Linked DNA regions of Homo sapiens. The protein of the gene in region 3 purifies or fractionates together with the protein of the main gene of each other region. This does not show direct contact. Each region holds a gene or a part of one and is shown on either strand. Other genes may lie near its edges.

The links.
Region 1: the proteins of PFDN2 (region 3) and PFDN4 purify together in Homo sapiens (affinity purification with mass spectrometry; 7 studies listed by BioGRID and IntAct, with this or other methods). This does not show direct contact.
Region 2: the proteins of PFDN2 (region 3) and DDB2 purify together in Homo sapiens (co-immunoprecipitation; 3 studies listed by BioGRID and IntAct, with this or other methods). This does not show direct contact.
Region 4: the proteins of PFDN2 (region 3) and POLR3B purify together in Homo sapiens (affinity purification with mass spectrometry; 3 studies listed by BioGRID and IntAct, with this or other methods). This does not show direct contact.

Annotation. Positions count from the first base shown.
Region 1 is NC_000020.11:54,211,087-54,214,586, reverse strand, and holds part of PFDN4 (prefoldin subunit 4), read right to left. Parts: intron 237-3,500; coding exon 129-236; intron 1-128. UniProt on the Homo sapiens protein: Binds specifically to cytosolic chaperonin (c-CPN) and transfers target proteins to it. Binds to nascent polypeptide chain and promotes folding in an environment in which there are many competing pathways for nonnative proteins.
Region 2 is NC_000011.10:47,231,974-47,235,473, forward strand, and holds part of DDB2 (DNA damage-binding protein 2), read left to right. Parts: intron 1-840; coding exon 841-986; intron 987-2,599; coding exon 2,600-2,699; intron 2,700-2,783; coding exon 2,784-2,961; intron 2,962-3,296; coding exon 3,297-3,439; intron 3,440-3,500.
Region 3 is NC_000001.11:161,104,538-161,108,037, forward strand, and holds part of PFDN2 (prefoldin subunit 2), read right to left. Parts: intron 1-3,500. UniProt on the Homo sapiens protein: Binds specifically to cytosolic chaperonin (c-CPN) and transfers target proteins to it. Binds to nascent polypeptide chain and promotes folding in an environment in which there are many competing pathways for nonnative proteins.
Region 4 is NC_000012.12:106,430,748-106,434,247, reverse strand, and holds part of POLR3B (DNA-directed RNA polymerase III subunit RPC2), read right to left. Parts: intron 1,931-3,500; coding exon 1,768-1,930; intron 530-1,767; coding exon 376-529; intron 1-375. UniProt on the Homo sapiens protein: Catalytic core component of RNA polymerase III (Pol III), a DNA-dependent RNA polymerase which synthesizes small non-coding RNAs using the four ribonucleoside triphosphates as substrates.

The DNA of each region.
Region 1 (3,500 bases), on a different chromosome or scaffold from region 3:
TAGAGTGGATCGCGTCATTCATCTGCAACAAACAGCCCAGAGAAATATATATTCACTTGTTAACTGAGTTCAGTTTTAGTAGCTATAGTATAAAAAAATTTTATTCTTCTAATAATTATTTTCAATACCTTTTTTACTTCTATTTCTTCCTTCAGCTCTGTGATTCTACTTGTATTCCGTGCAAATTTGTTTATCTTTTGTTGATCTTCGAAAGTAACATTGACATCTTCTGCAGCCTGAAAGAAGTGTTTAAGTTTTTGTAAAATTTTAACGGAGAAGTTATCAGTTAGCTTTTTATATTTCTCAACAATAACTCAATAAGCCATTTGCACTCATATAGTCAAGAATCACAAGAAGTACAGAACATAACAAATGCCTTATTTTTTGCTCCACAAGCTTAAGGTTTGTTTGTAAATCTATAACCTTTTCTGATACTCCATAAAATAATTCCTAAGCTATAAACATATTGCAAACATAAAGAACAATTAATAAGTCCTTTTAAAAGGAAAGAAAAAAAGCCAACTTTTGGCACAGAGCAGAATTTCTCAAGTTGGAGCATTCTTTCATTAAGATGACCCAGGAAACAAAAAGTTACATGGTCAAATATATTGGTAAATGTCTCAGAGTAGTGTTTTTTTTTTCTTAGAGCTAAAACTTGCATGAGCTTACTGGCTAAAGGGTCACTGTACATTTCAGTGGCTCTATTCCATTCACAGCAAAAATTATGTTTATAATGTAGGACCTGTTTAAATGTCTTAATAAGGTCTACTTTACTAAAAAATGATGAAAATTGAATGTTTAGTATTTAAAAATTAATATTTAATGTGATTAAATTTACAAATTTGCAAATAAAGAGTACTTGGATAACATAAAGTACCAATGAAATAATAAAAAAATAGCTAACACTGATTGAATTTACTATGTGCCAAAACTTCCTAAGTACTTTATTATCTCTGCTAATCCTGCAATCCATCTTATTAGGGAGGATCACCAGCACTATTTTACAGATTGAGAAACTGAGGTACACTTTATATAATATGGCCAAAGCCACAGAGCCAGTAGGTGGTGGAACTTGATTTCAACCCAGGCAGACTGGCTTCAGAGGTCAGACAGGTCCATGAGTTCTCGGTAACTGAATGTGAACGTGCGTCTCTGTGAGTGTGCACGTGTGTGTGTGAGTGTGTACACAGGCTTAGGCACATCTGGAAGAGGCAGCAGGATGTCTGCTTTCATCAGATTCTCAAGGAGGTACCATATATTTTTAAAAAATAAAGCTAAAACATAAAACCAGACTCTCCTTAGGGTTTCCCTTCCATTTATAAAATGAAAACCAGAGCACCTGATTCTAGTTTAAAGAAGAAAAGATATTTGTGTGTGTATAAAAATAGTTCATACTGAAACACTACTTTTGGCTCTTTTGCAGTAACAGTAATGAGCTCACAACATTCACACTCCATCCCTGACCTGGTCTCTCATGACCATCGACTTAAGGTATGTGAACTTTTATTTCTCAGAGGTTGAAAGGCAGTGTCAAGCAATACAGAGCTCAGTGGTCGGAATATAACACAGTCCTCCCCTTTGTTAGGCTCTCATTCCAAGAAACAATTTCACATGCATTATGCCCCACCTCAACAACCCAGAAGATAGCCTGAAAAAATCCTTTACATCACACTATGTCTAGCTTTGAGTGTTCAACCGTATGCATAATTTTGATGAATATGGAAGTTGGGGAACACTGAGCTACGCTCAAGAAACCAAAGTCTATATCTTGGCACACAAGTCATTTTGCCTAAGTGAGAACTGTCAATTCCCTACGCAAATAGACAGCAGAGAATTCTGAAGAGTTCCTGTTTGCCTGAAGAGTATATGCCATTTTGTTTAAATATTGAACCCCCAACAGGCATTTATAGATGTATTTGTCTTGGTGAGGGCTCAACAGAGCCATTCACATGAACGGATCCAGTGCAGGACTGCCTGGCACATAACTAAGGCTAATACATGGTTTCTGAATTTGAATCTAAATCATGCTTGATCAGACTCAAACACATAGTTTCCAAAATGTGGTAGAGAGAATTTGGCTATCTGCTTTCTGTCTTTCCAAAGCAGGAATTTCCTGTTGTAGCCCCACCAAACCACAGGCATCAGCACACATGTGGCCCCTGGTATCCAGATCTTTACAGTGGTTTTCCCACTGGGGTTAAGGGCTAAAGTTGATGTGTGAGTCAAATATACTGCATGCCGCCCAGTGGAGTGCCATTTACAGCAGACAGTAAGATGTCAGTGCCTTTGATGGCTAACAGAGGCTTCTGTTTTAGTCTCACTGTCCTAGAACATTCCTACATTTCTTGAAGCTGCATTTTGGCAAGAAGTGGGTAATTTTTTTTTTTTTTTGGTGAGACAGAGTCTCACTCTGTCGCCCAGGCTGAAGTGCAGTAGCATGATCTTGGCTCACTGCAACCTCCACTTCCCGGGTTCAAGCCATTCTCCTGCCTCAGCCTCCCAAGTAGCTGAGATTACATGCACATGCCACCATGTCCGGCTAATTTTCGTATTTTTAGTAGAGAAGGGGTTTCACCATGTTGGCCAGGCTGGTCTTGAACTCCTAACCTCAGGTGATCCACCAGCCTCGGCCTCCCAAAGTGCTGGGATTACAGGCTTGAGCCACCACGCCCAGCCAGAAGTGGGTAATTCTTAACTGGGGGGTGGGGGTGGTCAATGGACATTGACAGGTCGATATACCCAGAGACTGTATGCAAAATGGCATGTATAGTATGTGCATCCTTCTGGAAGGTCTTCATAGCTTTCACCAGATTCTCAAAGGGATCCACAACCCCAAAAGGTTAGGAACTCCTGCCTTCAGGGAAACCAGCTGTAGCTACTCTCAAAGTCAGAAGAACTCTAGGAAGAACTCATATCCTATAGTATCTGAGGCAGCACACAGAGTGGTGGGAAGAGTCAGGCTGCAATCCAATCCAAGCAAACAGGAACCTTGGGCAAATTACCCAATTCTTTGGAACCACCTCAGGTTTCTCATCTGTAAAATGGAGAGGCTAGTTCCTACCTTATAGGGTTGATAAAATGAACATGTAGGAGAAAGCCTGATGATGGAGTCAGTCAAATGATAGCTAAGCATTTTACATCCTGAATATTGTTTATCAAAAATCATTACAAAGAACAGATCCAGATCTAGAAAGAAATTCTGCTAGGCCAAAGAGAAATATGCCTGCTCGGGATCCAAAGTAAAAATTAAAATTCCCTGGGCTCTTTTCTTGAGAACTAATATCTTACGGGATTAGAGGAGGAAACTGAACCATACTCAGTCATGCCTCACACCAAGTCTAGGTATTACACGGAGTCTGCACTGACAGCTGGGTCCCTAGAAATAAATTCTGGCCAATTTCAGTCTTTTATTTTTACTTTTAAAAACATATCTACCAAGTCTGTATGATGTAAACTTTTGCTTTGTATTTGTATTCAACCTTCTTTGTTTGTTTTTTTGT
Region 2 (3,500 bases), on a different chromosome or scaffold from region 3:
TGTTAAAATTCAGAGAACTTTATATCCCAAATTTGCTATATGTTAATTAAAAAAAAAAGTAAAAATAAAGCCTTAAGAAATGAAGGGAGGCGGGGCACGGTGGCTCACGCCTGTAATCCCAGCACTTTGGGAGGCCAAGGGTGGCGGATTACCTGAGGGCAGGAGTTCCAGACCAGCCTGGCCAACATGGTGAAACCCTGTCTCTACTAAAAATATACAATTTAGCCATGCGTGGTGGTGGGCACCTGTAATCCCAGCTGCTTGGGAGGCTGAGGCAGGAGAATCGCTTGAACCTGGAAGGCAGAGGTTGCAGTGAGCCGAGGTCGTGACAGAGCAGGACTCCATCTCAAAAACATAAAAATAAAAATAAAAATAAAAAAAAGAAAGAAATGAAGGGGCCAGACAAAGCGGCTCATGCCTGTAATCTTAGCACTTTGGGAAGCCGTGGCAGGGGGATCGCTTGAGCTTAGGAGTTCAAGACCAGCTTGGGCAACGTGACAAAACCCCATCTTAAAAAAAAAAAATAGAAAAATTAGCTGGGCATGGTGGCACGCACTTGGGAGGCTGAGGTGGGAGGATCGCTTGAGCCCAGGAGATTGAGGCTGCAGTGAGCCGTGTTTGTGCCACTGCACTTCAGCCTAAGTGACAGAGAAAGACCCTATTTCAAAGGAAAAGAAAAAGAAGTGAAGGCCCTGTAGAGAGCGTCCTAGTGTCTAAGCTGACCTGGCCCCAAGCGCTGCTCGAGGGGTGCTTCTGTGACGGCGCAGCATGTGTGCCCAGGCCTGGTTCCTCACGGCCAGGCCCATCATCACTCACTGGCTTTTTCCTTCCTCGTGTTAGATTGGAGCTGGAGGGAGCATCACTGGGCTGAAGTTTAACCCTCTCAATACCAACCAGTTTTACGCCTCCTCAATGGAGGGAACAACTAGGCTGCAAGACTTTAAAGGCAACATTCTACGAGTTTTTGCCAGCTCAGACACCATCAAGTGAGTAGTTTAACTAGCAGGGGAAAGGGCTTCTAAGCTTAGGTGTAGTTCCGGCAAGAGCATCCAGATCCCATTTCCTTAACCCAACCTGGCCCAGGGAAGAAAGGAAAGATGTCAGCCACTTTCCGCCCTTCTTTCTCTTTCTCAAACTGCTCCTTGGCTGCCCTCACTTTGGTCCAGGTGGGTTACTGCTTTGGGAAGGTGTTCTGGAGCCTCAGCTCTTCTGTAAGTCATACCTGTATTAGACTGGACCTTGACCCTCACTAGATAAGCCAGCATGGCGTGGACCCAGAAAGCCACCTAGAGAATGGAGCAACAGCTCAGAACTTGAGACTGAATGCCCTGCACTCACTGTGGTGTAATGACCTGACCTGTTCCTGGGTGGAAGCTTATATGGATGGAATCTTTTCCATAAAGTGCTCTGGACTTCCCAAGAGAAAGTGGCTGGAGAAATTACAGAATGCGGCCGGGTGCAGTGGCTCATGCTTGAAATCCCAGCACTTTGGGAGGCCAAGGTGGGTGGATCACCTGAGGTCAGGAGTTCGAGACCAGCCTGGCCAACATGGTGAAACCCCCATCTCTACTAACAATACAAAAAATTAGCTGGGCGTGGTGGTAGGCCCCTGTAATTCCCAGCTACTTGGGAGGCTGAAGCAAGAGAATCGCTTGAACCCAGGAGGCAGAGGTTGCAGTGAGCCGAGATGGCGCCATTGCACTCCATCCTGGGCAACAAGAGCGAAAATCTATCTCAAAAAAAAAAAAAAAAAATTACAGAATACTCGTCACTTTGATTTCCAGCTAGAGCCGTGACTCTGACTGCTCCCTGAGGAATTAAGTGAGGGTGCTGGGGTGTAACTAGCATTGGATTGGATCCTGGGCTGTCCCGCAGGGATGAGGAGTGCATGCGCACGCAAATCAGCAGGCAATTGGATAGACAAGGCTCCAGGCTACTCTTCCGCAAGAAATCTTCCTGCTTGAAGATATTCATAGGGGATGGCAAAAGGCAGTGTAGCATGGATTTGAGAGTTTGAGAGAAAAACTGTGAGCTGAGCTCTTCTGGCTGAATAGCAGGATCCCTGAAGCACCCTCCTAGTCAGCCTCCCAGTCCAGTGGTTTGAGGGACCAGAAGAGCTCCTGGTTGTGTTTTTTCCCCCAGTGTTCAGAAGGGGGCAGAAGTGCTTTTCTAGCCAGCTCTGAGGAACAGGGCCAGGCAATCCCTCTTTGGCTTGTGTCTCCTTTGGCCTAAAGGGTGAAGAGTGAAAGGAGAGAGCAGTAAAGGAGGCTTGCTCAGAACCCGGGGTGTGGGGGGCAGGCGTGCCTCAGGGCTTGCTTTATGGTATAAGCTTTGTCTGCTTCAGGGACTTTTAGGAGCTGGGGATCCTGGGCCCAGCCATAACCAGACAGATTTCTGAGCCCCATTATCCCATCCCCTCTGTCTGGACGGTAGAGCAGTCTGAATGTTCCTCACTAGGAATCCACGGCAAGACAGTTATTCATTCATTCAACAAATATTTATTGAATGCCCGCTGTGGGTTAGTCACCGGAGCGGCAACAGTGAGTAAATAGGACTATCTCTGTCCCCAAGAATCTTACAACACAGTCTCTCCCTCCAGCATCTGGTTTTGTAGCCTGGATGTGTCTGCTAGTAGCCGAATGGTGGTCACAGGAGACAACGTGGGGAACGTGATCCTGCTGAACATGGACGGCAAAGAGGTGCGTTCTCCGAGGTCCTGCCTTTCCCTCCCTCACCCCCACCTCGGTTCTGTGTCCCCACCTGAACCGAGCTCTTCTCTGCAGCTTTGGAATCTCAGAATGCACAAAAAGAAAGTGACGCATGTGGCCCTGAACCCATGCTGTGATTGGTTCCTGGCCACAGCCTCCGTAGATCAAACAGTGAAAATTTGGGACCTGCGCCAGGTTAGAGGGAAAGCCAGCTTCCTCTACTCGCTGCCGCACAGGCATCCTGTCAACGCAGGTGTGATATCCCAGACCTCATCTCTCCTGCAGACCCTGCCTGTCTGACCACTGCTGGGGTTTTCCCTCAGTGTGGAAGCCACTACGTCAAACCTTTACCCCTGATAGCGTCTGCCAAGCTGATGTCTGGGAACCTTTGTGGCTGTGGCTGTCCCCATCAGCTGCTGAGTTTCCAGAATTTTTTTGTTGTTGTTCACAGCCCAGATTCACCTCTTCCTTTCCGCTCCTGTCTAGAGAGGAGTGGGAGGGAGAGTACCCCTGCAGGAGAAGGCCTGCAAGGCCAGGACCACAGAGGGCTTGTGGTTCCTTCAGCTCAGGGGCTTTTCACTTTGCCAGCTTGTTTCAGTCCCGATGGAGCCCGGCTCCTGACCACGGACCAGAAGAGCGAGATCCGAGTTTACTCTGCTTCCCAGTGGGACTGCCCCCTGGGCCTGATCCCGCACCCTCACCGTCACTTCCAGCACCTCACACCCATCAAGGTGAGTGGCGGTGGGAAGGAGCTCGCAGAAGGAGGCTGTGATCATGAGGCCGGAGCAGGTC
Region 3 (3,500 bases):
GGGCTCTAGTGATCTTCCTGCCTCAACCTCCCAAACAGCTGGGACTACAGGTGCACACCACCTAATATTTTTGTAGAGACAGGATCTTACTATGTTGCTCAGGCTGGTCTCAAACTCCTGGGCTCAAGTGCTCTGCCTGCCTCAGCCTCCCAAAGTGCTGGGATTACAGGCATGAGCCAACATGCCTGGCCTGGCCCCTTAGCTCTAGTTCGCCTTCTGCAAGGATCACATACAGCAAATATTATCCAAATGGCTGACCTGCACCACCCTTATGTCCCTTCTACTGCCAATAAACCAAGGAGTAATACTTCACCAAAAACTTGTCATTCCAGCAACCTCCTCCTTTCTCCCATCTATCACCCCTTCATCTCAAGCTACTTTAGCCATTCATTTCAACAAATGCCTTGGAAATCTAACTTATCTACAGATTGTTTTTCCTTAACCTTCATTGCCTGTCTCAAAACCATCCCATTTATATTAGCTTTTTCTCCACTGTTAATATTCTAGATCAAAATAATTCCATCTAAAAAAAAATTATGACTAAAGCAGATTCTAGATGTTCCCTCAGCACCCAAATGATCCACTTTTCTGGATGTATGTTGTTAAATACATCAAAGAAATCAGCTTAAGTGTCTAAAATTTCTGATGCCCCAACTTTTAACTCCTGGGCTCAAGTGATCCTTCTGCCTCAGCCTCCCAAGTAGCTGGGACTACAGACATGTGCCACCACGCAATTATTTTTATTTATTTTTATTTTTTGTAGAGACAGGGTCTCACCATGTTGCTCAGGCTGATCTTGAACTCCTGGCCTCAAGCAATCCTCCCACCCTGGCCTCCCAAAGAGCTGGGATTACACGCAGGAGCTACCATGCCCAGCAGAATTTATTTTCCTTAGTAATTAACAGGAATCTACTTTTCTTTTCTTTTCTTTTTTTTTCTGAGAGGAGTCTTGCTCTGTCGCCCAGGCTGGAGTGCAGTGGCGCGATCTCAGCTCATTGCAACCTCCGCCTCCCGGGTTCAAGCGATTCTCCTGCCTCAGCCTCCCAAGTAGCTGGGACTACATGTGCATACCACCACACCAAGGTAATTTTTATAATTTTAGTAGAGATGGGGGTTCCACCATATTGGTCAGGCTGGTCTTGAACTCCTGACCTCAGGTGATCCACCCACCTCAGACTCCCAAAGTGCTGGGATTACAGGCGTGAGCCACTGCACCCGCCTGAGATTTTTTTTTAATTCCAACTTTTCTTCAACATTCTTGCTAATAACTAATTTCCTCTTGTTCCATTTTATGAACTTTTAATCAAATACCAAACTAAAATCTACTTAAACATGTTGAGTTATCTACAGTTATTATGGAAAATTTCAGCCATAAGTGCACTTAAAGGAAATGAAATCTCTTAGCAGCTGATATAGTTTATGTGTCCCCTCTAAGTTTCATATTGAAATATAATCCCCAACTTTGGAGGTGGGGCCTGGTGGGAGGTGTTTGGATCATGGGGGTAGATCTCTCATGAATGACTTGGTTGCCATCCCCTTGATGATAAGTGAGTTATTGGTCTGAGTTCACACAAGATCTGGTTCTTTAAAAGTATGACACCTACCCCTCTTTATTCCTCCTGCTCCCACTATGCATAAGACACCTGTCCCCTCTTTGCCTTTCATCATGATTGGAAGCTTCCTGAGGCCACCCCAGAAGCAGATGCCATGCTTCCTGTACAGCCTACAGAACCATGAGCCAATTAAACCACTTTTCTTATAAATTACCCAGTCTCAGGTAATTATAGCAACACAAGAACGGCCTAATACAGCAGCTAACTGCAACTTAACTGTAGACTATATGTAAATAAGCCAATATTAAGCCATTTCTGGGGTCTGCCAGGTAATGAAAACAGAGAAGCTATCCTCTATTCCCACATTTTTCCTTTTAAAACATAACTTTTCTAATAGTCTTCTCCCCTATGGCTAGGACCTAATTATCCTTCCCTTTCCTTATTCCTTATTCTCTGTCTGCTGTAAGCACAGATTGACACATCAGTGTTGCGTCTCTCAACCCTATTAAATCATCATCTATGTACAAACAATTTTTTTCTTTTCTTCTTTAGACAGGGTCTTACTTGAACTCCTGATTCATCTGTTGCCCAGATGGAGTACAGTGGTGCAATCATGGCTCATTGCAGCCTTGAACTCCTGGGCTCAAGTGATCCTCCTGCCTCCACTTCTAGAGTAGTTAGGACTATATAGGCACCCATCACCACTCCTGGCTAGTTTTTTAAACTTTTTGTAGTGATGGGGTCTCACTCTGTTCCCTAGGCTGGGGTGCAGTGACACAATCATGGCTCAGTGCAGCCTTGAATTCCTGAGCTGAATGAAGCGATCCTCCTACCTCAGCCTCTTGAATGATGGGACCATTGGCATGTGCCACTATGCCCGGCTAATTTCTGTATTTTTTTGCAGAGACAGGGTTTTGCCATATTGCCCAGGCTGGTCTTGAACTCCTGGGCTCAAGTGATCCTCCCATCCTAGCCTCCCAAAGTGCTGGGATTACACGAATGAGCCACCAGGCCCATACCCTATTGATATATTTTTAAAAACTGCTTAACTAGGGCCGGGCATGATGGCTCACGCCTGTAATCCCAGCACTTTGGGAGGCTGAGGTAGATGGATCACGAGGTCAGGAGATCCAGACCATCCTGGCTAATATGGTGAAACCCGGTCTTTACTAATAATACAAAAAATTAGCCGGGTGTGGTGGCACATGCCTGTAGTCCCAGCTACTTGGGAGGCTGAGGCAGGAGAACTGCTTGAACCCAGGAGGCGGAGGTTGCAGTGAGCCGAGATCGTGCCACTGCACTCCATCCTGGCTGACAGAGCGAGACTCTGTCTCAAAAAAAAAAAAAAAAAAAAAAGCTTAACTAATCCTCTGCGTTAGAACATTTAGGTTGTTTCCAATTTTTCTGTAATAAATAGTACCAATATAAAATCTCTTTGGACAGGCCTGGCATGGTGGCTCATGCCTGTAATTCCAGCAGTTTGGTAGGCCAAGGCGGGCAGATTACTTGAGGTCAGGAGTTCACGACCAGCCTGGCCAACATGGTGAAACCCCATCTCTACTAAAAATACAAAAATTAGCCGGGCGTGGTGGTGCACACCTGTAGTCCCAGCAACTTGGGAGGCTGAGGCAGGAGAATCGCTTGAACTCGGGAGGTGAAGGTAGCAGTGAGCCTAAGATCATGCCACTGCACTCCAATCTGGGATACAGAGTGAGATTCTGTCTCAAAAAAACAAAACAAAGGCCAGGCGTGCTGGCTCACACCTGTAATCCCAGCACTTTGGGAGGCCAAAGCGGGCGGATCACCTGAGGTCAGGAGTTCGAGACCAGCCTGGCCAACATGGTGAAACCCCATCTCTACTAAAAATACAAAAAATTAGCTGGATGTGGTGGCGTGTGCCTGTAGTCCCAGCTACTTGGGAGGCTGAGGCAAAAGAATCGCTTGAAC
Region 4 (3,500 bases), on a different chromosome or scaffold from region 3:
TTCCTCATTTCTTAAATGACAAGAATAATCCAACCTCATAGGGTTGAATGAAGAAGTTAAAGCCTTACACATATAGTGTCTCCATTAAAATGACAAATGGTGGCTAGCATTAACCACTACCACAGTTGATTGTTATTAGTCATTTTTTCTGCCTTTCCCGGCAGACTGAGCTCTCTGAGGGCAGACTCTGTCTCCCATTAATCTGAATCCTCGGTACCTAATATGCATATTCATGAAGTGTTTGCTCACGGAATTAAATTTATCTTCACAATGAAAGAGGTTAAAACAGTTTCAAAAATAAAAACAAGTCTATTTCTTTCAAGAGCAAATATAAAGAGATTCTTAAAAACTCTTTTTAGTAACCTGCATATATACCTGCATAGCCTTCCCCCATCAGAAGAAATATAGACACATCGATCTGTAAGATTTGTTGAGATGGAAACAAATTCATTGATATATCCTGCTCTTCTCATGAGTCGAAATGTATTCACTAGCTTTTTGTGGTCTCGAATGACACCTAAGATGTTACCTAGGCAAAAAGAAAGAACAGGTAAGACAGAAATAAAAAATAAATGCAACCTGATTTAATATATCCAACCAATAAAAATAGTAATCAGCACTAAGCAGTTATTTGAAAATACCATTATTAACACCTGCAGCCAGTCCACAAGGTTGCAGGGAAGCAACAAAGGAAGAATGCTTAAGGGCCAGTCCTTCCACATGCAGGCTGAGGAATACTGGAAAAGTCAGCTTCATTTTCCTCATCTTTCAGCACAGTGCTGGGGCATGAACTTGGGGTCCAAACAACCTGGGTTTGAACACTGGCTCCATCACTTCCACAGGCTGGCAGTAAAGGTTAAACGAGCTGATCATTTAAAGTACTGAGAATTCTGCCTAGCACCTACTAACTGCTATTATTAAACTGCTTCTTGTTGTAATCAACATTTGTGAAATGAGGAAAATGAACTTTGCTTCCCAAGGTTAGCGGGAGGATTCAAAGAGGCACTGGGTGAAAGTGCAGAGTAAAAGCTCACTCAATGTTAGCCTCTGGGATACAATGAACTAGGCAGTCAGTTAACAGCCCTGCTGAGGCTCTGACCCCTTCCTCACCAGCAGATATAAAAAAGAGTTAATGCCTCCTAGAATGAGAGGAAGGGGGAGAGGAAGAGAGAACAGACAAGTGATAAGGGATAAGCTCATGGAGCATACTAGGGAGAGAACAGGCACACAGCACCAAATCAAAAGCAGAAAGGAAGAGAGCACACTTGCTGCTAAGTCTCTGGAAGACTTCGAAGGAGACGGGAAGAGGTATATGAAAGAAATAACTGGAGTGTGAGCCAAAGGAGAGGGATCCTCTTATCACAGGCTGCTGACATATTGATTATCAGATGGCTAGACAAAGTCAATTCATTATAAGAGTTGATCTGATAATTTTTGCAGAATGACTCCAATATTTGACTTGTACTTAAAGATACCATGTTGAACCGTATTCCACTAAGGATATGCCAGCAACTGCAAAAGGGGAGAAAGCAGCCACTTTCTGCAAAGTTACCCTTTAGCTCTGATAGCTATATCCTCTCAGAACCTTGGATAACCCAGCCAACAAAGTAACTGTTTCTGTTATCATTGTATTTTCTACCTTTAAGTGAAGGTCAACCTGGGCCCAGAATTAAAGTCTATCTGTGCTTTAAATACCAGGATAATAATGGATTCCCTCCCCCTCTTCACAGACTATCTAGGACCAACATGTCTCTATAATATACCCACCATTAAGAAAGACAAGAAACACATTTGGGTAAGAGAGCTCTTCCCCACATAATAAATTCACATCTTCTACTCCCAAGTTACTGGCTAATTTAACAATGGGTCCATCTTCCATATCAGTTGTGATGTGTGTCATAAGGGCCAAGTTTTTAACCAAACCACATGCCTAAAAAACAAAAGATGGTCATTTCTAAGAATGAACATTAGTAATACAAAGTACAGTTTACATCTGAAAATAGCTCACTACTTTGCTGGCAGCAATGCAAAGCAGTACAACTTTGTAGGGGATACTGTGGTGATTCGCACAAATGCCTTTAAAAAATATATATATCCCTTAACTCAGGGGAATTTCTCTTCATAACAAGCAAGGATATAAAATAGATTTAGATACAGAAATGCTCAGCACAGTACTATTTGTAATTGTAAATGCTGACGACATCATAAATGCCCAACAAAACTGATTACATTAACAATTACTCCCAGACATTGGAACATTACAGTCATTATGATGACATTGTATAAAATAAGTAAAGGAAAACATTAATAAATGCAGCTACATAAAAATATAAAACTTCTGGCCTGAAATGAGAGACTGTATAAAATAACTGGCCAGTGCCCTTAAGTTTCTTGGTCACGAAAGGTAAATAAAGACAGACTGAAAAACTCTTTCAGATGAAAAGAGACAAGGAGACATGACAACTAAAAACAATGTGTGATTCTGGATCAGAAAAAAGACAACAGTGGGACAACTGGCAAAATTTGAATAAGATCCATAGATTATAGTATTGTTCAATGTCATGAGGCTGATAACAGTGCTATGGTTACATAAGATGTTCACAGTTGGGAATCTAGATGAAAGATTGTGGAAAATCTTTGTACCAGTTTCATCACTTTTTTGTATATCTAAAATTATTTCAAAATGAAAAGAAAAGAAATCTTTTTAAACATCTATGCAACCCGGTACAGTTCTAAAACAAAAATACCAACAAGGACAGAATATAGCAAATAGGAAAAAAATACTTAAGACAGGTGACTTGTAAGATTGTATCTTCAGGTCTTAGAACCATCTGCTGCAGTAATGTACAAAATAGCTACTTTTTTGAAGTTAGCTGAAGCAATCTCTGGGAAATGAAATGTTTCAAAGTTCAAGATATATAAATTATGCAAAATTTGACAAACTGGATAATTTTAGTGTCAATTTCCATATGGTTTAAGATAAATTAAATAGTTTCTAAAAATCGCAGCTCTATACAGACTCCTATTTTCATCTCTTCCAAATAATAAATTCCTACACTTTGGACCCTACATCTTTTACTTGTTGTAATTATTAATTCAGCATATATTCATGGGGCCTGTACTCTAACCAAGGCTCTATGTTAGGAGCTTGAGATACAATGGTGAACCTTCCTTCCTCCAGAATTTTACAATTTAGAAGGAATAGAATCAAGTGAAACTAACAATGTTAACACAAAGGAGAAAGGACCGTGACACAGGGAGTAGCGGGTGCTATAGAAGTAAACCCATGTAAACTCCCTGGCTTGATGTTTAGGCAATTGCTTGTGTTTCCAATATAAGTGAGTCAAAATCCACATTAGGTCATGGACTGTATACTCCTAATTGGCTGTGACTGAGCCTACCTAAGGACAATAAGGAGCTGCTCAAAAAGAGCCCCTCATGAGCATGAGAGGTGGTAGGTCTTTCAATCTGCCTTCACAGTCTTATCCCCTCTGTGCATG